3 separate regions of the Homo sapiens genome follow, and all the other regions are linked to region 2. The links come from fine-mapping of genetic effects on gene expression. A gene starts in region 2. Each other region holds a variant in brackets. All regions are shown on one strand. Distances are between the middles of the regions.

The links. PIP is the estimated chance that this variant, and not a neighbour inherited with it, causes the effect.
Region 1: its variant is fine-mapped to the expression of GPR143 in prefrontal cortex (GTEx, PIP 0.98).
Region 3: its variant is fine-mapped to the expression of GPR143 in tibial nerve (GTEx, PIP above 0.99).

The regions. Positions count from the first base shown.
Region 1 is chrX:9,784,077-9,792,286 of GRCh38, reverse strand. It overlaps SHROOM2 (shroom family member 2), which reads right to left and starts at 5,858. Exons shown (of 10, transcript NM_001649.4): 1 at 5,577-5,858. The coding sequence starts at 5,741. The variant C/G (reference allele first, on the strand shown) is at 4,460.
Region 2 is chrX:9,762,580-9,770,789 of GRCh38, reverse strand. GPR143 (G protein-coupled receptor 143) reads left to right here and starts at 4,943. Exons shown (of 9, transcript NM_000273.3): 1 at 4,943-5,222. The coding sequence starts at 4,973. RefSeq lists an enhancer at 5,536-6,037.
Region 3 is chrX:9,711,030-9,719,239 of GRCh38, reverse strand. It overlaps TBL1X (transducin beta like 1 X-linked), which reads right to left. Exons shown (of 18, transcript NM_005647.4): 16 at 7,464-7,629; 17 at 4,237-4,338; 18 at 1-3,020. The coding sequence ends at 2,994. Among named protein-coding and RNA genes, the nearest start is that of GPR143, 51 kb to the left of the region's middle. The variant C/T (reference allele first, on the strand shown) is at 3,926.

The sequences.
Region 1 (8,210 bases), 21 kb before region 2:
GGAACATTCACACCCATAATGGGAACAGGCTGGCTCTACTACAGGACAGCCCAAATACTGCATCACACAAGGTAAAGGACAACAATTCCTCCAGAATACACCCTCCCTGTATCAGATACTGGTGATTATTCTATTCTATTCTATTCTATTCTATTCTATTCTATTCTATTCTATTCTATTCTATTCTATTCTATTCTATTCTATTCTATTCTATTCTATTCTATTCTATTCTATTCTATTCTATTCTATTCTATTCTATTCTATTCTATTCTATTCTATTCTATTCTATTCTATTCTATTCTATTCTATTCTATTCTCGAGATGGAGTTTTGCTCCTGTTGCCCAGGGCAATGGCACGATCTCCAGCTCACCACAACCTCTGCCTCCCGGGAGCCTCCCGAGTAGCTGGAATTACAGGCATGCACCACCACACCCGGCTAATTTTTTTGTATTTTTAGTAGAGACAGGGTTTCTCCATGTTGGTCAGGCTGGTCCTGAACTCCCGACCTCAGGTGATTCACTCGCCTCGGCCTCCCAAAGTGCTGGGATTACAGGCGTGAGCCACCGTGCCTGGCACTGGTGATATTTTTTTAAAGGCCTAAAAGAGCAACAGGCAACCCAGAACTCTTTCAAAATCCTTCATGTGGGTTAAAGTTTTCGGCTTGCATGTGTAGGAAGAGGGCTTGCAGAAACCTGCAGAATTTATCCTTCATGAATTGCCCCACTGCTGACTACAGTGCTTGAAAGTAAAAGAAGACCTGAATAAAAAGTCCATTCAGCTTTTACATTCTAACATTATCGTGTAGAATGTTTCCGCTGCACCCGGTGTGCAAGAAGAAAAGTTCCACAGAGCCCCAGCTTTTCTCCACTGCCCTTAAGAACTTGGCCACAAATCCAGGTTTATTTGCATGCTGATACAAAACAACTCTGGCAAGGGGACAAACAACTCCAAAATGCTTTCCAAAGAGAAAAACCAGCCCTTCCCAAGTGGCAAGCCAGTTTTTTTGACCATGAATTACAAAGGTAGATTAAGAAACCCCCAGCTCATTAGGACAAGGTGAAAACTGCTACTTGTTCTGAGCCTTTCATTATCATACTATTCTACCTTTAGCTCTTGGGCAAACTAGTTTTCTTTTCTTTTTTTTTTTCAAAAGATAAATGTTACGACATGTTAAGAAATACTCATAACTGAGCCATGAAGACCGAACGCATCCTGGTACAGAAGTGAGATGCATAGCTTATGTTTACAGCTTCTCATAATCGCAGAAGGCTCTGGATTCATAGGCGTGAGTCAAGCTGAGTTAATGTCTAAGAGAGGAAGAATCCTCCCAGAGCTGACCCTCAAAGCCTCCAGCTCCCAGACCCTGGAATAGGACTTGAGGCTCACTGCCTGACTCCACACTCTTGCCCAAAACATCGCCGGAGAACAAGGATGAGAATTCAGCAGGGTCACATTAATTCACAGGCTGGGAAAAGGTAATAAAGATAGACTTGAAAGCCAGTTGGCAAGGCGGGCCTACCAACTGAAAGGGTCTTTCAGCACAGGAAAGAAAGCTCACCTCTTGGTTTTTAACCTTACTATTAATTCTTAAATACAGATGGATCTTTATAATGACACTTATCCTAATAGCTGAAGAAAACATGGTAGCTGGCATCAAAAAGTGAGTAAAGCTTTACAACTCGGACATCACTTAGAGATGGCAGAGGCAAGGGAGATCCAAGCCCTCACCCACTGGTTCTCAGACACCTGGAGAAGCAGCAGCACTCCCTCGTGCAGATGTTGACCGCACACTGCATCTGGGCACAAAAATCCACCAGCAGCCACAAAGTTGAGAGTCACCCGCTCCTGACCCACTGCTGAATTCATCAGGTCCCTCTTTTTCAAAACCTTTACTGATATTTCACAAAGAGCTTGGTTGGCTCTTGGGAGCCAATATAATGGCATATGAGACAAGAACTGATCCCGACCAGGGTGGTCACTCTGATCTCCCCGGTCCTCGGGTCACGAGGTGACTTGGCATGGCCCATAATGCAGAGCCCCCTTTCCAAACCAATAAGTAAGGTACATCAGAGGCGCGGGGCCTCCACTCCTGCCCATCACCAACCACCAGTCTCAGCCCTGTGCCCTCTGCAATCAAGGACTCAGCTAACACTTTACATAAGACACTTGCCACCTGGCTGCACGCCCCCCAAAATATGCCCTGATTCCGTCTTTGGCATTCACACTGGAAAGGACATTTCAAAGCTCTGTCTCCAATCCAGAGAAATGTTCTCAGAGTCTGAAGCCCTGGGGTGGGTGAGTCAGGTGGGGGGGACCTCCAAGCGTCCCAGACCACAGCAGTCTTGTCGCACACAACAGCTCTGGTGCCCAATGGCAACCCGAAAATCAATGGGTTCCCAAAGGAGCTGCCCTTGGGGCTAGGCCAGGCCCAAGTTACTGTCTTCTTTGGAGCTTCGGGCTAAGGCTTCTGGCATTCTTTTTGGGGGAGGGAGCGGACTCTAAGAAATAGTGAACAGGAGAGGCTGGGGCTTCATTCCTTCCCTCCCTTAACAAACATTCCTGAGGCCACAGGGGGCTGCTGACACCCAGCTGGTGTATTTAACGCTTCCTCATGAATCCCCCAAACAGCTTTGTGGAATTCAAGCCACTCTAGTGACATTTTAGAAATCAGTCCCCTCCCCTCCCCCCACTGAAGACTTCCACTGGTTGAATGGATGGGAACAGAAACATGCAAAAAACCCACCAGGATCACATATATCCACCATCTCTACTTCCGTTACATAGATTCCTACAGCATGGATGTTATTCCTGCCCCCTCTCTAACAACAGCATGGAAATATGGGTTTGAGTGCATTTTTTCCACCAACTGTAGCAAAATTTCAAGGCAGAAATCAGCAGAAACGTACTGAGGAGTGATGAATCCTGTCGCCATCTGTCAGCGGAGGTTCTGCTGGGCTTCATGCATGCACCCCAAATTCCAAGAATGCTACTCCTCTGAAGTTGGTATCCCTTTAGCTTCAAACTAGACCCAGAGAGTAGTCAGTCCTGATTCTGAACAGCCACTGTGGATGCCCATAAAACACAGCACTTGGGAGTTCCTGCTTCAATTTCCTTTCTCCAGCTACAAAAAATGCAGATGAAGCAAGTATTTGTTTGAGTTTGACTATGTAAATAAAGCCTATTCTCAGGGCCAACGCGTGGGAGGAAAACAGCTCTCCATGCAAACACTGGCAATGCCAGAGGCCTCTAAACACACCACCCTAAAGGCCAGTCTATTCAAAAAGAAACAGAAGTTTTAAGAGCAAGAATCCTTTAAGAGCAAAGGTGATATATGGTTAATCTAACAAAAGAGATTCAAAACCAGGCTAATTTTGCCCCCAGAGGACATTTGGCAATGTCTGGAGACATTTTTGTCATCACACCTGGAGAGAGGTGACAGTAGCATCAAGCAGGTAGAGGCTGGGGAGGCTGCTGAGCATCCTCCAAAGCACAGGGCAGCCCCACAGCAAAGAGATTCAGCTCACAAAGTCCCCAATGCCAAGGCTGGCAAACCCTCACCTAACCGATGTGACGAAGGTATTCAATATGGCATTGCAGGAGATCCCAGACCCAAGCAGATGGCACTGACTGAAGGGGAGCAGCAGGCTTGAACACTGGGGCCAGAGTCTGATTCTTAGGGCCTTTCCCAGGACTCAACAGTTTGTGACCTCAGGATACACCATTTGCCCTGCCTGGGCCACAGCTGTTTCATCTATAAAATGGGCTGATAAAATTCCATCTGAAGACCAGGACCGAACCAGCCTTGTTCTTGACACCCCTCCCAGTTCTACTACACGCACTCCCATGAGGCTTTCAAATGATACCCTCATTATCATAAAGAGAAGGTGCGCTCTTACCTTAATGCAAGCTATCCCCAAATCAGAGTCTGCTAAATAGCAAGTGAGTTGTACAGTATTCCAGGGCTCTAATATGTAACTATTTAATTACAAGTGGAAAAAAAAAAACGATTAGAAGAGCTATTTTTTAATGAGCCCCAGTGACTTTTCAGTAGCTTTTGGGAGAGGAAGATTCAAAGCTTGGATTAATCCACATTCTGAGCCAAGCGCAGTGGCTCATGCCTGTAATGCCAGGACTTTGGGAGGCAGAGGAGTTCGAGACCAGCCTGGGCAAAATGGTGAAACTCCCCGTTTCTACAAAAAATTTTAAAAAATTAACCAGGCATGGTGGCGCACATCTGTGGTCCCAGCTACTCAGGAGGCTGACAGAACAAGACCCTGTCTCAAAAAAAAAAAAGAAGAAAGAAAGAAAGAAAAGAAAAGAAATAAAAGAAAAAAAAAAGAGGAGTGTTCTGGCTGGGCAGAGTATACACACTTTATGACTGTCCACCATGTTTCCAAAGAAGCCAGTGTGATAAAAGATTACACATTGGTCAAATTTATAACAATGGCAACCTCTTTC[C/G]TGAGTTCAACAAAAATTTAGTGCAAAGCTAAACAAGGCTTCTCCAAATCCCTCCACAAAGTTTTGTAATCATAAAAGCGACAGAAAATATAGAATGGAAGACGCTGGTGTCTCATTTGCTATTTGAACAACAAAGCCATCCCACTTCCCAAACTGATTACCAGTGCGGCGGGTTAGGAATCACTTAATTTCTTCCTGCTGTGGAGAGGCAGGAAAGCCGAGAAAACCAGTAAATTATCTTCAAACGCTTCTAGTCGCCAAGAATCTTTACATTTTAAAAGGAACTTCGTCCACACGAAAGGTCCGACTCAACCCTTCCCAGAGAAAATGACCACTACACACTTTTAACTAGAACACAGGGTGACTGGACTGTTGTTTATGTGTTTGCTTTTACAAGTTCATACAGGTTCAACTGGTAAGTTTCCAGATGGATTTTGTTTTGAGACAATAAAATTCAATGTTCTAAAGCAAACCACACACACACACACAACATTCCTGATGAGATACATCTGGAATTTCTTTATTATTATTAGAACTCGGGTCCTGCTCTTAGGAAGCAGGCTTTCAGGTTTCTCTAAGTTTGCGCAGGTATCCAGTGCGCAGTGGATCTGGGACTGGAAGCCGAAAGTCAGTAAACATTGATGGGCTGAAGGGAATCGAGAAGTTGCGCTGGCGACAGCTGCTACTCTGGATTTCGTAGTGATCACAGGCACGGGTCCAAGGGGTGCCGAACCAGGGACCCCAGAGAGGCAAACATAGGTGGGGACGGCTCGGGGACACGTTCCTTCGCTGGCCTCCAGGCAGCCCCGCAGGTGCAGGCCGCCACTGGCGGGCCCGGGAGCGCCAGAGGACCCGGCCAGGCCCCTGCCCGGAGGAGGGAGGGGGAGGGGAAAGGGACTCCGGGCAGGAGCCATTTAAACTCTGCGAGGCGCGGGGAACCGCCAGGATCACACGCCCACGCCGGTCCCGGCGCCCAGGCCCGGCAGGTGACCCCAGCAGACGCGCGCGCCAGACCCGGGGGCGCGAGCCTACCGCCCCTCCCGCGCCCCTACCTCGACGCGCCCCGCAGGGCGGCCAGCTCCCGGCTGTCAGCGCCCGCGCCCCGCGGCCGCCTTACCTTGGTGATGACCAGCGGCTCGCCGTGCTCGCGGCCGCCCTTCAGGGTGAAGCCCCACGGGGCGCCGCCGCTCAGCTGCACCTCCACCAGGCGCCCGCCGTCCGCCGCCCGCGTCTCGGCCTCGGCCAGGCGCTCGGGCCGCGCGCGGGGCTCGGCGCCCTCCATGGCGCGACCGCTCAGCGTCCCTGGCCCGCGCCCATGCACTCCGGGCAGTCCCGGCCGTGGGATCGCAAGGGAGGCTCCGAGCGCCGCAGAACTTGCGCCGTAACTTGGAAAGAAAGTGCCGGCCCGGCGGCGGAGGGAGCCCGGAGGGCTGGCGGGGAGGGGGCGGGGCCGGGGCCGGGGCCGGGGCCGGGGCTGGCGGGGAGGGGGCGGGGCCGACGGGGGGCGGGGCGGGCGCGTTCGGGAGCTCGTACCGCGGGGCCGGTCACGGGGAGCGCGTCCAGAGGTCCAGCCCGCGGCCCGAAGGGTGAGGGACGGGGTCAGGTGCGCGCTCAGGGGCCCACGCGGCCGCTCGTACCGGGGAGAGCTGGAGAGGGGCGCGCCCCGGTTCTCTCGCCCGGTGGAGGGGAGCGGGCCGGGAGGGGCGCTCAGGCGCGCGCGCCGTTCAGCGGGTTCGGGGTCGGGGTCGAGGAGCGCGCGCCCCGGGGCTGGCGGAGCCAGCGCGGGCGAGGACGGGGGCGGAGGCCCCGGCGCCAGGTCGGGCCTTTCCTCCCGCGCCAGAGCTCTGCAGTGCTTCGAAGCTCTGGGCGCCCCCGCCCGCCGGTTGGAGGCCAGGACCGGGCAGGTGAGGCGGCAGGTGAGATGGGCGCGGGGTGGCGTGGCGGGAGTCTCCGGCCTCCTCCGTCTCGGGGCGCGCGGCCCGCCGGCGCCCACACTTTGTTCTCGCGCACCGCGGGCTGCCGCGCAGGTGAGAGCGGAAGCGCCGCGGGAGGCCCTGGTGCCCGCGCTGTGGCCGCTGCCCCGGGGCAGAGGGACCGCCCGTCCCGCGCGGCCCTGCGCGCACTCACACTCTGGACTTAGAGAGCCGGGAAGGGCGCCCCCCAGCAGCCTGAGCCGGGCGCGGGTCCGGCCTCTGGAGGGGCTTGGAAGGCGGGCGCAGAAGGACCGTGCCCCGTTTCCACGAGGGCCTTCCCACCTTCCCGCAGAGGCCTCCCACAGCCACCGCGCAGAAAGCCGTTGCGTCTAGATGCTGTCCCCACTCGCCTAGGATTGGACCACAAGGTCTTCAAGTTTCCCAGGTTTACATCCCCGAAAAGGGGAGGTGGAGGTCTGGGATTGGTGAAAGTTTGCGGACAACATGTGTGCCACCTCTTCCTGCTCGGTTTCAGTTTCCATGAAACTCTGGTCTAAAGTACCTGCATGGATAGGTATTTACATGCTTTGCAAAAAAGCTGTTTTCGTTGCTGTTTCTATACGTAGCTGAAGGCTGGTGAACACCTCTTTTCTCTAAGCAGCTCCATCCAGGCCCTTTTCAGAGGTGACGATGCTGGAGTACGCATCCAGGACAGGCCGGGAGAGCACTGGACAGAGAGTCAAGGGTCCCCGGGTCTGGGTTCTGCCACTGTCAAGCTGGGACAAGAAATCTCAGCTCTGGTCTGTTTCTTCAGAGGTCAAGTGAGAGGGGTGCATTCTGTGGAGGTGTCTCATGCAGCCGATTAAATTCAGAGTCGCAGCTCCACTGGGCACCTGTCATGGCGCTGGGCACGTGGTGACTGCCCCATAATTAACTTCTAACTACAGTCTCTGAATGCCTTTAGTTAGAAGAATGAGGCGATTTTTTCTTTTTCAAAGATTAAACGAAGGCTTAAGGAATGTGCCTCTCAGAATCAAGTCGAGTGTATCTTCACTGTGGTGATGGTCACAGGAGCTGCCAAGTTGATTAAGCTAAATTGCACAGAACTAAATGCACGTGAAACGGGAAATCTGAAAAGGCTTGGTGGATTGTATCAATGTCCATATTCCAGGTTGTGACATTGTGCTGTAGTTTTGTAACGTGTTGCCATTGGAACAGGCAGGTGAAGAGTGAAGGGTGCACAGGACTTCCCTGTATTATTCCTTACCAAGAGGCGAAGCCAGTTGGGTGGGGACTCCGAGAATTTTTCTGTCTTACAAGAGGATTGTAAAATGCACCAATCAGCGCTCTGTGGCTAGCTAGAGGTTTGTAAAATGGACCAATTAGCACTCTGTAAATGGACCAATCAGCGGGATGTGGGTGGGGTCAAATAAGGGAATAAAAGCTGGCCACTGCAGCTAGCAGTGGCAACCCGGTCCAGTCCCCTTCCATGCTGTGGAAGCTTTGTTCTTTCGCTCTTCACAGTAAATCTTGCTGCTGCGCACTCTTTGAGTCTGTGCCACCTTTAAGAGCTGTAACACTCACAGCAAAGGTCTGCAGCTTCATTCTTGAAGTCAGCAAGACCAAGAACCCACCGGAAGGAACCAACTCTGGACACATTACAACTACATGTAAATCCAGTTATCTCACAAAGTTTAAGAAATGGATGGATATGATAAACCAAAAGATAAAGAGCTGTATAAATATACCCAGTGTGCTTATTAGAGTTTGCAGACATGTCCGTCTCCCAAAACAGCCCACTCCCTACCTCCCCACCCCAAGCTGGTATAGACTTCAGT
Region 2 (8,210 bases):
TTAAGGCACATTGTGTGTCTATAAGGACTCTAGGAGTGAGCACAAAAGCAGGGTGAGGCAAGGAAGGAAGAAAGCAAATTAAGAGCAGTGCCATTCATGAACTGGCCACAAGATTCCCAAGAAACCCAGCTGGTTACACAGGAACATATGAAACCACTCCTCAGAAACCTCCCTAGGAAGGAAGGGTGAGCAATACATCTGCCAGTGACTTCCTGCTTCCTCTCTCATTGGAATAAGTTTGTCTGCCCCACTAAGTGTTAATCCTCCTCCATTTCTCGGTTGTTGCCCAGCCTTTCAAGCAGCTGCTAGATAAGCCAGAGCCTCAGGTGGTAGACTTACAGGAACTGCAGCCTATGGCCCTTTGCCTGTTTTGTAAATAAAGTTTTATTGGCACACAGCCATACCCATGGACTTATGTATTGGCTGGTCTTCCTCTCTCTCTCTCTCTCTCTCTCTCTCTCTCTCTTTTTCTTTCTTTCTTTCTCCTGTTCTTGCTCTGTCGCCCAGGCTGGAGTGTAGTGAACTCCTGACCTCAGGTGATCTGCCCGCCTCAGCCTCCCAAAGTGCTAGGATTACAGGTGTGAGCCACTGAGCCCGGCTTTTTTTTTTTTTTTTTTTTTTTTTTTTTTGACTGGGGGAGGTGGGGGACAGGGTCTCCCTATGTTGCCCCAGGCTGGTCTTGAACTCCTGGGCTCAAACAATGCTCCCACCTTGGCCTCCCAAAGTACTGGGATTACAGACATAAGCCACTGCACCTGGCCATGTTTTGTCTATATCAATTTAAGTATCAGTAAAACCCACTTGGAAGGCTCATTCTGAATATTAAATGAGATAATGAATGTAATATTCAAAGCATAGTGCCTGCCTACACTCCATAAATTATTTTATTATTTAAATCTTATTTATTAGGCTGGGCGCAGTGACTCACGCCTGCAATCCCCGCACTTTGGGAGGCTGAGGCGGGCGGATCACCTGAGGTCAGGAGTTCGAGACCAGCCTGGACAACTTGGCAAAACGCCGTCTGTACTCTAAATACAAAAAATAGCCAGGTGTGGTGGCAGGCGCCTGTAATCCCAGCTACTTGGGAGCCTGAGGCAGGAGAATCACTTGAACCCGGGAGGCAGAGGTTGCAGTGAGCTGAGATCGCACCACTGCACTCCAGCCTGGATGATATAGTGAGACTCCATGTCAATAAATAAATAAACAAATCTTATTTATTATTTAAATTCAAATTATTGTGAATGGCAGTCTCCTTACTTAGGCTGTTTCTGCCATCCATCTGCCCCTAGCCACCTCCTCTACTGGATTCTAAGGGATATCTGAGTCTCACCATAAACCCCATTCTTTTGGTTGAGACATCTCGATGTCAGGGGACTCACCATGAAAAATAAACTGCCTGGGAGAGAAACTCAGGAACCGTCTTCCAGCAGTTGATCAAGTGCATCTGATCAAGTGGGAATGGTGGGTAAATGGTGGATTGTGGAATGAGAGAAAGCCAAGATGATGGAGCATTTCCAGGGAACAGATGCCCCAGGCAGCCCAAACTGTGAAAATGGAGAGCGAATTCAGGTGCTAAACTGGGAAGGAGGGAAAAACGGAGGAAGGGTTCATGCAAAAACAGATGTACCTTCATGTACTCAAAGACCGATTGTTTCTGCACACATACCTCAAAGTTCATATTCAGCACCGCCATCCCTGTATCTCCCATATCTACGAAACTTCCAGATGTTTCTGCCTCCCAAGTGTGTGCGTGTGTATTTGCTTCACTTTTCTCAGATTTGTAGTTGTACTGTTTCATGAAAAGTTTTGTCAGGCCAGGCATGATGGCTCATGCCTGTAATCCCAGCACTTTGAGAGGCCAAAGCGGGTGGATCACTTGAGGCCAGGAGTTCAAGACCAGCCTGGCCAACATGACGAAACCTATCTCTACTAAAAAGACAAAAAATTAGCTGAGTGTGATGGCATGTGCCTGTGGTCCCAGCTGCTCAGGAGGCTGAGGCATGAGAATCACTTGAACCCAGGAGGCAGAGATTGCAGTGAGCTGAGATCACGCCACTGCACTCCAGCCTGGGCAATGGAGCAAGACTCTGTCTCAAAGGAAAAAAAAAAAAAAAGTTTGTCATCTCAGTTCACCCAAGCTGGAGTTTGGTGGTGCAATCACAGCTCACTGCAACCTCAAACTCCTGGGCTCAAGTGATCCTCCCACCTCATCCTCCCCAGTAGCTGCAACTACAGGTGCGCAGCAGCACGCTCTGCTAATTTGAGATGTGTCGTCTTCCTCTAGGGACAGCAGGACTGGCCTTCCCTTGGGACCCCACAGAAGGCAGGCAGGAGGCTCCACTGCCAGACAGGAAGCAGAGCCTTATTTAACAACAATGAGCTGCAAACTCCACCACTTCAAAAGATGCTGCTCCTAGAGGAAGACGCTAGAGATGGGCTCTCACTATGTTGCCCAGGATGGTCTCAAACTCTTGGGCTCAAGTAATCCTCCTGCCTCAGCCTCCTTAAGTGCTGAGATTACAGGTGTGAGCCACTGGGCCCAGCCTCTCATACCAATTTCTAGTTCCCTCTCACTTTGATGACAGGGTTTTAAATTTAGTCTTACACTCATGCTTCTGCACCTTTACTCTGAGGCTCATCTTTACCATTGTCATCTGTGCCATGGCCCTAGGAATCTGCATTCATATCCATTTTCTCACTGATGAGATTCTGACTACTGAGCTTGAGTAGTGGGCACCAGAGTCAGCCAGAGCCCCCTGGAGAGTACTCCCAGGTTATCACGTAGGAAGCAGAGAGGCGGAGTGTGTTTTCTGGGGCATGAAACAGTGACTCAAATGCAGGGACCCCTTTGCCTGGCCCACTGGCCCTCAACCTTCAGGCAAATGTACAGACACTCTTCATTTTTATCTTTTAAAGCACTTTCCATTACACTAACCTCCAGAAGCAACTCTGCTTACCAAGGCAGAAGGAAAGAGAGCCACTGTCCAAATTAGATATTAGAATTCAAGCTTTTAAACATTAATGCTTGGGGAGTAGTTCTATGGTGCTTCTGACTGTTTTTACAATGGAGTGTGTAATCCAGCAGAGCTGTTAAGCTTTCTGAAGATGTCAGTCTGTTCTGACTTCTAGGAAGGCAGCTGTGGAGTGAACAGGCTGCGTTTATAGACGTGCCAGATCTGGACTCTTTTGAAGTGGTGGAGTTTGCACCTCATTGTTGTTAAATAAGGCTCCGCTTCCTGTCTGGCAGTGGAGCCTCCCGCCTGCCTTCTGTGGGGTCCCAAGGGAAGGCCAGTCCTGCTATCCCTAGAGGAAGACGGCACAGATCATGCCTTCCTTAAAACCGCAAAGCTGGTGGGGAGAACAAGTGAGGAAAGTCCATGAACACAATGGGGACACCTGCACCTTGGTTGCTTGAAAAAAACCCAGAGAGGGGCCCATTTTACCAGGAGAGAGGAGGAAGGGTGTCTCTTGTGTGGTCACAAAGAGCCAATGAGGTTTGTTGAAGATGATAAATATGATGGAGCTGGATTTTTTTTTCTTTTCTTTTTTTAAAATAAAGGCCATAATCTAGAAGGAGCACTTCTATTTTCAGCCTTGAAGAACTTAAAAAAAAAAATCTTAGTATGCTTACTGTAATCATTAACACAATATTACTTGGAAACTTACATGTATAGAATAAAGCAAGATTTTCAATGTATGAGAAAACATAGAAAAATTAACGCAGTTAAGAAAAATCCAAATAAATAGAACTGAAAGTTAAGGTGCAAAATGTGTCTGTGTGTACTTATGCTGAGTACTTTTCCCTTTATTTTTTTAATGTTTTTAAATTTTAAACTTAATTCTGTGTGTGTGTGTGTGTGTGTGTGTGTGTGTGTGTGTGTGTGTGAGAGAGAGAGATAGGGTCTCACTCCATTGCTCAGGCTGGAGTGCAGTGGTGTAATCTCTGCTCACTGCAACCTCCACTTGCCGGGCTCAAGTGATCCTCCCACCTCAGCCTCCCCAGAAGCTAGGGCTACAAGCACGCCCCACCACATCCAGCTAATTTTTGTTTTGTTTCGTTTTTTGATACAAGGTCTGGCTCTATCGCTCAGGCTGGAGTGCAGTGGCACTATCTTGGCTCACTGCAAACTCCACCTCCTGGGCTCAAGCGATCCTCCCACCTCAGCCTGCCGAGTAGCTTGGATCACAGGCCTGGGCCACCACACCGGGCTAATGTTTGTATTTTTAATAGAGGTGGGGTTTCGCCATGTTGCCCACGCTGGTCTCCAACTCTTGAGCTCAAGCGATCTGCCTGCCTCGGCCTCCCAAGGTGCTGGGATTACAGGTGTGAGCTACTGCTCTTTCTTTAACATTGATCTGTTTGTTTCATTCATTAATTGTAAACGAAAATCCTGCCTCTGTGGGATTATATCCATGAATGAGAGAGGCCATAAAAAAAAGCACTAATTGGACAACCATCTCTACTTAGGAAAAAAGCAGTTACAGGGATCAGTCACAGTTTATGAACATGTTCTGGCGCCTTAAAGGCATCAAAATCAGGATGTCAGAGTCCCAAATAGGAAAGATCTAGTCCACGAGGCCTGTTTCTCTAGAAGACCAGTAAAGATGGCAGGTTTGGCGCTCTAGGTGGCAGAGAAACCACCAGGAAGGCTTGGTGAATGGGGAGAAAGGTAACCTTCCCAACCTTTCTGCTTCTCCTTCCACTTCCCTCCTCCTCCTCCCTCTTCCTCTCCTCTCAGCCCTCCCTCTCTCTGTCCTCCTCCTCCGCCCGCCCAAGCATCACCTCGTGAGGCCTCGTGGCGTTAGCCCAGTGCTCTCGGCCCCCACCGAGCCTGGCTCTACTGCAGGCGCTGGGGGTTGGGGTGGGGGAGAGGCCCAGGGCACATGATGCCGCCCCCAGCCCGCCCAGCACATGACCCAGGCAGGCCGGCGGGGTCCTGGCACACCCGAGCCGCGTCCGCGAACACAGCCCATGGCCTCCCCGCGCCTAGGGACCTTCTGCTGCCCCACGCGGGACGCAGCCACGCAGCTCGTGCTGAGCTTCCAGCCGCGGGCCTTCCACGCGCTCTGCCTGGGCAGCGGCGGGCTCCGCTTGGCGCTGGGCCTTCTGCAGCTGCTGCCCGGCCGCCGGCCCGCGGGCCCCGGGTCCCCCGCGACGTCCCCGCCGGCCTCGGTCCGCATCCTGCGCGCTGCCGCTGCCTGCGACCTTCTCGGCTGCCTGGGTAAGGGCGCGCGCGGCCCGCGGGTTGGAATCTGATCAGCGCCTGGGTGAGGGCGCGTGGCCCGCAGGTTGAGACCCGACTGGTGCCCGGATAAGGGCGCACGGCCTGTGGATTTGGACCTGTTCCGTGATGGAGTGAGGACGAGAGGCCCGCGGGTTGGAACCTGCCCGGTGCAGGGCTGAGGGCGCGTAGCTGGCTGGTTGGGACCTGCTCGGTCCCCGGCTGAGGGCTTGAGGCCCGCGGGTTGGGACCTGCTCAGTGCTGGGGTGAGGGCGTGAGGCCCTGGGGTTGGGACCTGCTCAATCCCCGGGTGAGAGTGCGTGGCCCGCAGGTTGAGACCGGATCGATGCCCGGGTGAGGGCGCATGGCCCGCAGGTTGGAACTCGATCCACTCGGGTTGGAACTTGATCGGTGCCCGGGTGATGGCGCACGGCTAGCGGGTTGGGCTGGCCGTCTTAACACTTGAACCACAGAGAAAAGAGAAAGCGGAGGCTGTTCCCTAGGGACCGGATGGGACAACTAGGTAATTTTTTTTTTTTTTTTTGAGACGGAGTCTTGCTCTGTCGCCCAGACTGAAGTGCAGTGGCGCAATCTCGGCTCACTGCAACCTCCACCTCCCGGGTTCAAGGGATTCTCTTGCCTCAGCCTCCCGAGTAGCTGGGGGAGGCGCGCGCCACCATGCCCGACTAATTTTTGTATTTTTAGTAGAGACGGAGTTTCACCATGTTGGCCAGGCTGCTCTCGAACTCCTGACCTCAGGTAATCCACCCGCCTCGGCCTCCCAAAGTGCTGGGATTACAGGCGTAAGCCACCGCGCCCGGCCGACTAGGTAGTTTTGCAAACACATGGTCGGTAAAATTCCCATCCAAGGGACGTTGGGTTTTAAAAAATCCGTTTATTGTGTTTGTTATATGGAAACTTCAGATGGCGCAGTTAAGCAAAACCCAGACCAGAAAAGATTTCCTCATTTTTGCCCAACTGCACCAGGGAGAGACTAACAATTAACTTCTCTCTGTCTCGCTCTGTGTGTGTGTGTGTGTGTGTGTGTGTGTGTGTGTGTGTGCGCGTGTGTAAATTCTTTTCTATTGTGCACTATATATTCTCTCGAGTATTTTGTAAGCTGAAATCCCTTCCCTATCCAGGCTTTTTGGGTATGGTTTTTACACCACAGGTGCGCAAACTGCAGCCCTCAGACCAAATCCTGCCCGTTTTCTAGGGTCCACGAGCTAAGAATGGTTTTACATCCTACTTTTTAAAAAATTAATGATTTTGTTTTTTGAGACAGGGTCTCACCCTCTTGCCCAGGTTGAGTGCAGTGTCACAATCACAGCTCACTGCAGCCTCGACCTCCTGGGTTCAAGCGATCCTCCCACCTCAGCTACCCGAGTAGCTGGGACTACAGCCACACGCCACCATGCTAGGGTAAATATATGTGGGGTCTCACTATGTTGCCCAGGCTGGTCTCCAACTCCTGGGCTTAATTAAAAGATCACCACCCTTGGCATCGTAAAGTGTTAGGATTACAGGCGTGAGCCACCTCACCCAGCCCTAAAATGTTTTTAAAAATCAAAATTAAAAAATATTTCCTGGCATGTGACTATTACTGAAATTTAAATGTTAATGTCTACAAATAAAGTTTGATGGGAACGCAGCTATGTTGTTCATGTGCATTTGTGAATTATTCATGGCTGCCTTTACCCTACAAGGGCAGGGTGAATATTGGACTGAGAAAGTATGGCTCCCAAAGCCAAAAATATTAAGAATGAGTTTGCCAACATCTGCTTTAAACTATTATGTGACACTTTATACAGACCTCTCAGCTAGATTTGGCCATTCTGTTTAGCTTTTTGGAACATTTCCACCATGCGTAAATGCAGTCTATAATAGAAACACTTACAGTGAATCCCTGTACGTGGGATTCGTGAGGTACGGGTACCCGGCTCATCTGCTCCCCTCTTCACCCTCCTCACTGGATTAATGTGAAGCCAATCTCAGGCTCCATCATCCTGCCCATTCAGATCTCAGAGAGAGCCCTAAAACATAATAATTCTAAACATTTGCAACCCCAATATCATTATCACTTTATTTTTGAGACAGGGTCTCACTCTGTTGCCCAGGTTGGAGTGTGCTGGCATGATCATAGCTCACTGCAGCCTCGAACTTCTAGGCTCAAGGGATCCTCCTACCTCAGCCTCCTGAGCAGCTGGAACTACAGGCATGCATCACCACACTGGCTAATTTTTGCATTATTTTTTCAGAGCTGGAGTCTCACCATCTTGCCCAGGCTGGTCAAACTTCTAGGCTCAAGCGATCCTCCTACTTCGGCCTCCTAAAGGTGCGGTGGCTCACGCCTGTAATCCTAACTACTCAGGAGGCTGTGGTGGACGGATTGCTTGAACCCAGGAGTTCAAGACTAGCCTGGGCAACGTAACGAGACCCAGGCTCTACCCCCAAGAAAAAAAAAACAACAAAAAAAAGGCCCGTCATGGTGGGATGCACATGTGGTCCCAGCTACTCACCAGGCTGAGGCAGGAGGACCATTTGAGCCCAGGAATTCCAGGCTAGAGTGAGCTACGATCCAGCCTGGGTGACAGCCAAGACCCTGTCTCTAAAAAAGTAAGGTGTACCCAAACATCTTTTGAGGGTTAGTGAATAATACTTGCATATCCTTTAGCCTTTAGAAGGGAAGTGGATGAGGTTGCGAGCAAATAAGCAGAAGTCAGGAAAAGGCTGGGTGATCGGGACCCCTTACTGAAAAATAAGAAATTTCAATGCCCATGGGATAGGGCTTTTATTAAGCTCAAAGGAGTGATAAATGCTGAAAATTCTAAGGCACCGTACAGAAGAAAGGCATTGTTTTTGTTGGCAGTGGCTTGATAATGAGAAGATGTCTTGAGCTTTTTAGTGTTCACAGTTGTCGTTTAGTAGTGTATTACATAGTGTGTGTTTAGTGGTATATTACATGGTATGTGTTTAGTAGTATATTAC
Region 3 (8,210 bases), 52 kb after region 2:
TTTTGGTCCCCCTTGGGGCAGCATCCCTTTCCCAGGTGTGTGCTGGACCTGACTCTCGGTCACTGTGAACCCGACCAAACACTCTAGGAAGGTCTGTCATGCTATGTCTGCTTTCAAGGTCACGTTTGGTCACTAAGACTTAGGCATTCCTCACCATGTTTTAAGAGCTGTAAACAACGTTGAACAATAACATTCCACAGGCCATTTCTTGATTACAGGGATGACTCTACCAACATGCCAGCAGCAGAGAGGGTGAGTAGTGGTGTGCAAATGCTGGAGGCTCTGAAAACGGCTGTCCATGGTGTTGTCCCGCTGAGAACGGGGATGGATATGAAGGGTGCTAGCTGCATCTCGCGCTTGGTTTTGCTTGCGGCCGCAGGCTGGGGAAGCCAGGGATGGAGCCTGGGGTCCGAGGCCTCCCAGCCCAGGTTTCTACCTAACAATTCCGACATGGTTCACATTCATCAAGACTAAAGCCATCCCTCGGGAGAGACCCTGGCTACCGACATTCATGTGAAGATTGTCTAGTGAATTGCTTGCGACACATCCCACCATCGCCATCCCACAGTTGTTACTGGTTTGTCAAGCATAAGCCATGCCCTAACGACAGGCTGGCCTTTGACAGCAGATGTTCTACAGAGATGAGTGCATTTTTATTTGGGTGGGGTAGAGATGGTGTCTTTTGGACCCCAACAAACTGTACTCTAAACTTCACAGAGTCCTTGGGACGGGAAATCATCACCTCATCCAGGGACACTGGCTATCTTCAAAGATGGGTGCGGCGACTCCACATCACTGTGACCTTCTTTGCTAAGTGTTTCGGAAACAGAACACGAATAAAATACTCATCTCAGAACCAGAGCACTTTTTGGTCTTCTGGGACATGAATAATTCACATACCCAAGTGGAGGCCAATCAATGATCTGAGAATGATCAACGCACCCTGGCTTTTGCAGGTGGTCCTGGCACGTTCCAAGTTCCACAGAAGCCCTGACCCTTCCCCGATGGCTGGGTTTTGGCTCCGCAGATGAATGCCACCTTCACAATAACACCGTCTCACTGCTGGAACACACACCAGATTGCACCCTACCCACTGCTGGTGACCCAGCAGCCCCCACGGGCTGGGCCATCTTCCTCAGCCCTTCTGCCCACAGGAAAACCAATGGGAGAAGAGGCCCTTGTCCTTTGGCCTTTTCCCCCTTGCTAATGACAAAAATAAGTCCGTGTCGGGTTATGACAGCAAGCAGATGGAGGTCACCAGATTCACTGAAATGAAGCTCTTCTAGGAACACAAAGCCTTGTTTAATTTTTTAAAAACAGCAAAAAGATTATTTAAAAAAGATCTTTCTCCTAGTCTTCTGTGAGACAAAGAAATTATAAAGATGGCAGAAATTATTAGCGACGTTCTACCTCTATAATTCACGTTCAGGACTGAAAATCTTCCTTCTGCATTCATTTCTGTCAGCGTTAGACTAAGTGACATGCGGGCGCCTCTATGTCAGCTCTGCAAGGACTCGCCAAGCCTGCTCTTGGAGAAATGACCATCGGTCGTTATACGGTTGTGGGAAAGATGTAGCCAACACGCCTAATCCAGCCGAGCAGTCGGTTTCGACGGCTTCTGCAGTACCTTATGGTTCTGCCAATGCTCCCTTGAGGCCAGAGGGCGCGCGGCTCTTCGCTGCTTTCCTGCTGGCTGCCAAGGTGCATACACACCAAAAGATGCGAGGTTCTTCTTCCAGCCGGCATGGCGGGGACCTCCCTCACTGGCTGCAGAGCAATCTCGCTGCTGACCCCGAAGACTGACCCTTGTCCAGCCAGAGTTTTCCTGACCACCTTTCCTGAGGCTGAGGGGAAAGCCAGGGGCTCCCTCAGGCCCTGCCTGTGGCTTCTTCGGTTCTTTTTAAAACATGAATCACACAAAGCTCTCTATGTCTGATGGCCATTTTAAGATTTTAAAATTGTTTTAACATAAAAATATTATTTTTTTTTCCAAAAATACTCCAGGCTCTTTCTCTTATAAGTCATTTTTTTTTCTCCTGTAAAAAGCCCCCCTGCCCTGCCTTCTTACATAAAGCACTTACTACGCGCCAAAGTGCCCTTGAGACCTAAGATCTGAAGCAACTATGAGAAAGGTACAGAGGGAGAGAGAGAGAGAAAGAGAGCACGCCAGTGAGAAAGCGAGCGCGAGCGCGAGCGCAAGGGGAGGAGAGGGTGGGAGAGGGCGGAAGGGGGAAAGCTGTCCGTGGGAGATTGTGTCTTCATGTCCACGGGGCTGCATCTCTTGATGGTGCACTGAAAAAGCAGAGCTCACCAGACAGAGTGGAAAGGCAGGGGGAGGGGCAGGGAGCAACAGAAGGAAGAGACAACAAGCCCAAGACAGCTTCCATCTCAGACGGAAGGCCCCCAGAAGATAGAATTCCAGCCGACTGAAAAACCACCCAATGAACAAAGAAGATTCTAGAAAATAGAAAGTGTTGGGATTACAAAGTTGCGCGTTTCATCGGTACAAACTGGTCTTTGAACCTCCTTTGTGAGAGCAATTGTAGTGTCCAAATTGTTAGGGAAAACAAAAAAAAAAAATCCCAAGGAGGAGGGTTTTTCCCCCTTCCCTGTTTGGTTTATCACAGCATTTTGCTTTTTTTTTGGCACAGCTTTTTACGTTTCTTTCCATTCAGCCATCACAGAGCCTGTTCCGGGTGGAAACCAATCCACACGCCTCGAGCTGGTGACTTCCTCCTTCCCAGGCTGAATGTCCTCAGTGGAAACCATTCTATCCCCGTTTGATATGATTTGCTTCTGTTTTTGCTTGCCTTTTAAAAACTTCTTGATGAAGATTACGAAAACATATAGACTCCTGCGGCCAGAGACGAGTTGGTTTCAGAGTACACTCTAACGCAAGTCAAGTTCCTACAGTTTTGGAGAATAGAGCTGCAACCCTACACATTCACGGCTGGTCATTAGAATTCTTTTCTTTTTTCGATAATATTTTGTGGTTACTTCCGCAGATCCAAAACACACACCTGGAAGGAAAGATAAAGCACCTGTCATCTTGAGAGACAATACAAAGATGCCTTTAGAGTGAGAAGTCGGCAAGCTACGGCCCCCACGCCCAATCTAGCCCTCCACCGATGTTTGTCAGTAAAGTTTATTGGAACATCGTCATGAAGGGTCAGAGAAGCTCTCATAACAGACTGGCATCTGGACATCGGACCGAGCAAACTGAAGCAAACAGCACAGAGCAGAAAGGCCAGGTTAAGGGTAATGATAGGAATTAACAGAGTGGCAGAGGTCCCAGAAGGGACACCTGCAATCGTGGGGCAGATGACAATACGAGCCCAAGTACACAGCCTCTGACAACATTTGGGGACTACTCTGACCCTTGGCCGTTCAGCCAGAACGGCCGCTTGCCCCAGAGGTCAGGGCAACCTCAAGTCCAGGGGAAAATAAGAAATCCAGATGCCCCATGGGAAGAGAAGAGGGCCCAGGAGACCTGCAGGATGGCCACCAGAGGCCCGGGCTTCTCAGCCACAGCATGGGTGACAATTGTGGCCACCCTGTGCACAGTAGGAGGTTTAGCAGCATCCTCATCTAAGCACAGTCACGCGTCACATAATGACGTTTCCAGCAACAACGCACCGCACAGACCGCAGTGGTCCTGTAAGATTATAACCATATATCTGCTGAACCTTTTCTATGTTTAGATAGATCCGGACGCACAAATGCTTACCATTGTGTTCTGGTTGCCTACAGGAATCAGTATGGTCACCCGCTGTCCAGGTTTGTAGCCTGGGAGCAATAGGCTGTACCACACAGCCTCGGTGTGGGACAGGTATTATCATCTAGGTTTGTGTCAGTCACTCTATGATGTTCAGACAAAGATAAAAGTGCCTAATGACACATTTCCCAAAACGTTCCCGTCATTAAG[C/T]GACACATGACTGTAGTGACAACCTAAAATGGCTCCAGATATTGTCTAATGTCCTTAGAGGTGCAGAATCACCCTGGTTGAGAACCACCAATTTGACTGAGAAAATGTTGACTAGAAGGACACTCTGGAAGGGACAAGGAGAAGGCCATTCCCAGATGTGGTACCAACTCCGATGGGATCCAGCCCAGAAGCTTCCTTTGGCACTGGGCTAGGCCCTTCAGGACACGAATGCTGCACACGCCCTGGAAGCTCACTTAGGCATCAGCTGCCCCCAACACCCCACTCCCCAGCAAACCAGAGGTGTTGCTTACAGAGCCGTCGGACGCGCTGGCACCCACTTTGTCTCCTCGGGCGTTCCAGCACACCTCGAAGATGCCGCCAGTGCCTCGGTAGCTGTGGACAAGATTTCCACTCTGCAAAGCAAAGCAGCTGTCACTTACAACGCAAGGGGCGCCTGCGACAGATGCAGGTGTGGAATGTGCGCTCCTCCGGCCCTGACGTTTCGTCATGAACATTTTCAAGCATGGTGAAATTTAAGGGTTTTCAGTAAGGACTCTGGGGGCCATGGAGATGTGCCTCTAGGACTTCCCACCACGAGGAGTGAACCTGATTACTTATGCCTGCGGAATCTGCCACATTTGCGTGGATTCTGAGGCTGCACCCAGCTGAGGACTGATGGAGGCGGGAGACCATGGCAGTCACCTGCTGAGACTCAGACTCATCTGGTGGGTAAGTGGCTCATGGACTCTCCATCAGCACGACCAAAACTTTCTACAGACCTGTAAGGGCCATCCCTGACTCTTCCTACCCTTCCCGTCTCCTTCCCAGGGTCAGACTGGCCTTATGGTCTGAATTCTCCCTTCCCCCTACCTTCCTCCCTGTTTCCATCACAGCTCTTTCCCCCAATAAATCTCTCGCCCATCTAATCCTGTTCTGGTGTCTGTTCTTTGGAGGACCTGAATGAATACAACATAATGAATACACCCACCCCAGTAGCAATTAAATTGACTGTAATTCATGATTAAATGTAATAATATGCCATGACATTAAAATGTACGTATTTTTGGACATTTGAAAGAAGAAATGCATAATATACATGTAATGGAAAACACCACAGACCATTGGTTTCCGGTTTAAAACAGCATTAACTTGACAAATCTAAGAGGTAGGGGAAGTTGAGGCCTTTGAAAGAGTTGAATAAGGCCAGGCGAGGTGGCTCACCCTGTAATCCCAGCACTTTGGGAGGCCGAGGCGGGAGGACGGATTGAGCCCAAGAGTTCAAGACTAGCCTGGGCAACACAGTGAGACTTCGTCTCTACAAAAATTAATTTTAAAAAATAAAAAAGAGAGAAAGAGTCGAATAAGCCTTCACTCATGATTCACTATGGTGACAGGCAGGAGAAATCTGAACACCGAGACCAGGAGGGCTGTCCCAAATCCTCTGCTCAATTGGGCCCCTTAAAGGGTGGTGTTCCATGAACTGAGAAAGGTGTGTGTCGGCAGTATTACAGATAAGTATTTTTATACTTGGAGAAAGATTAAAGTGGGCTTTAAGATTTCTCTTAAGAAAATTCCTAAGGATTTCTTGGCCGGGCGCGGTGGCTCATGCCTGTAATCCCAGCACTTTGGGAGGCCGAGGTGGGTAGATTGCCTGGGGTCAGGAGTTCAACACCAGCCTGGCCAACATGGTGAGACCCCGTTTGTACTAAAAATACAAAAGTTAGCCGGCTGTGGTGGTGCGCACCTGTAATCCCAGCTACTCGGGAGGCTGAGGCAGGAGAATCGCTCAAACCCGGGAGGCAGAGGTCGCAGTGGGCCGAGATGGCATCACTGTACTCCAGCCTGGGTGACGAGAGTGAAACTCCGATCCAAAAAAAAAAAAAAAAAAGAAAAGTCCTAAGGATTTCTTTGATTTATAAAAAAGGGTTGAAACAGTTCAGTGAGTTCCTGACAACAGGCTGTACCTAACTGATCATGTCATTGTTTTGATAATTGATGTGTTCTTTTTACAAATCCACCCATTACTATTTCTAGCGAGGATTTCAGGAACGGAGACTCTTGGACACTAGTGCTGAGATGCGTGCTTCCCGGAGAGCTATCTAGGGCTGTGGGGCTGGGCTTGGCGTCGGGTTGGCTCTACGCAGGGTCCACCATTTCCCTTCCTTCCCTGAGAGGATGTGGTTCACATGAGGTCCCTGGGAAGCCTGTGATCTCAGTGGACCCCTTGCCAGTGAACAGGGCTCATCACCATTGAGTCCACAGGGGGAATGAACTTGAGGGTATAAATCCACCTGAATGTCAACCAAGCCAAAAGGAACCAAGAAGGCAGTGCAGATGAAAGGGGGCAGGGGGAAGGCTGTGTGATTCCTCCCCTCCTGAGGCGAAAGGGACCCCTTCCTTATTTTCAACAGCTCCTAGCATATTATCACCTCTCTCTTCCCTTAGACTAGAATCACGTGCTGATGGCCCTATACAATCCTTTATGCTATGCAGTGCTACTTCCCATCCATTTCTACACTTTACAGCTGGAATTCTTCTATCCTCAGGTGTGGCCCAAGATACCCACAGCAGCCACCTTTATTTAAATCCTATGTCCTTTCAATCCCTGCTAAAAGGACAACCCAATATTGACATACCTTATGTCCTCAAACAGAACCTACTTTGATTTGAAAAATTGAGGCTAGGCACGGTGGCTCACACCTGTAATCCCAGCACTTTGGGAGGCAAAAGTGGGCGGATCACCTGAGGTCAGGAGTTCAAGACCATCCTGGCCAACATGTGAAACCCTGTCTCTACTAAAAATACAAAAATAAGCTGGGCATGATGGCGGGTGCCTGTAATTCCAGCTATTCAGGAGGCTGAGGCAGGAGACTTGCTTGAATCTGGGAGGCAGAGGTTGCAGTGAGCCAAGATCGCGCCACTGCACTCCAGCCTGGGTGACAGAGTGAGACTCCGTCTCAAAAACAAAAACAAAAACAAAAAACAACAACAACAAAACAAAACAGAAAAGAAAAATTGAAGTGGCATGACAACAGCAAGAGCACATTCCTTCCCACTCCCTGGTCTGCTCCGTAAGGGAGCTGCAGGAGCTGGTGTGGCCTTGACCCCGTTAGCTGGTCCCCCACTCCCACCTTCTAACCTCAGTATCTAGAGAGCAGCACTTCGGTGATAACTGCTAAGAAGAGGAAGAGGCAGGTGGAAGGTTTCGTGCCATGGACTCAGAAAAGTGAACAGAAGACAGCGGCTCCTTCAAGGAAGAACGTGTGCCAAGGTGAGGGTTTGGAATCAAATGGCCAAGAGCCATGATTACGGTGGACACGACGCCCTTCCTCAGGGAGGGGAGCTGCCGGAGGTGTCTGGTGGGGGAAGAGCTGACAGCCCACGTGGGGTGCACGTGGACAGCATCCACTGGGTCTGCCCGGGGAGCCTGAGCTTGCTCAACTCCCTCCGGGGCACTGCTCTGAGCCAAGGGCACTGGAGTCGTGGCTATTTGGGCATCCCTTACTAAAAGGATTTGGTGTAGGGGTCGGGAGCTTACCTGAGTATTCCAGATATGGACGCACTTGTCGAAGGATCCACTGGCCAAGTACTTCCCATCAGGGCTGAAAGCTACGCTATAGACAGGCTCCTGATGCTTCGTGAGCGTGTGGGTGCAGACGCCTCGTTCTATGTCCCACAGTCGCACCGTAGAATCAAACGAAGCACTAGCAAGGTGGGAGAGAAAGCAAAATCACATACACACGGTGGTTTCAAACAGTTCTCCATAATGTGTATCAGATCTCCAGGAGTTGTTTTTCCCAGCTTTTACGTTTCAAAAGATAATAACTAAAAAGCTTTTTGTCTTCTAAACTGTAACTACTTACAAGTATTAAAAACAAAGCCATAGTCATTAAACAGAAAAAAAGCTTTAATGGTCTTATTAGGGAAACAATTTGATATCTACATTTGTTTCTGCACCTTTTTTTTTTTTTTTGAGATGGGGTCTTACTGTGTTGCCCAGGCTGGAGTGCAGTGGCGTGATCATGACTCACTGCAGCCTCGAACTCCTGGGCTCAAGTGATCCTCCCGCCTCAGCCTCAGCAGAGAAGCTGCAACCATAGGTCCACACCCGGCTAATTTTTATTTTTTTATTTTTTGTAGAGACGGGGTTTCACTGTGTTGCCCAGGCTGGTCTTGAACCTCTGGGCTCAAGAGATCCTCCTGCCTCACCCTACCAAACTGTTGGGATTACAGGTGTAAGCCACTGCGCCCAGCCCTGTTTCTATGTTTCCTATAGACGTAAATG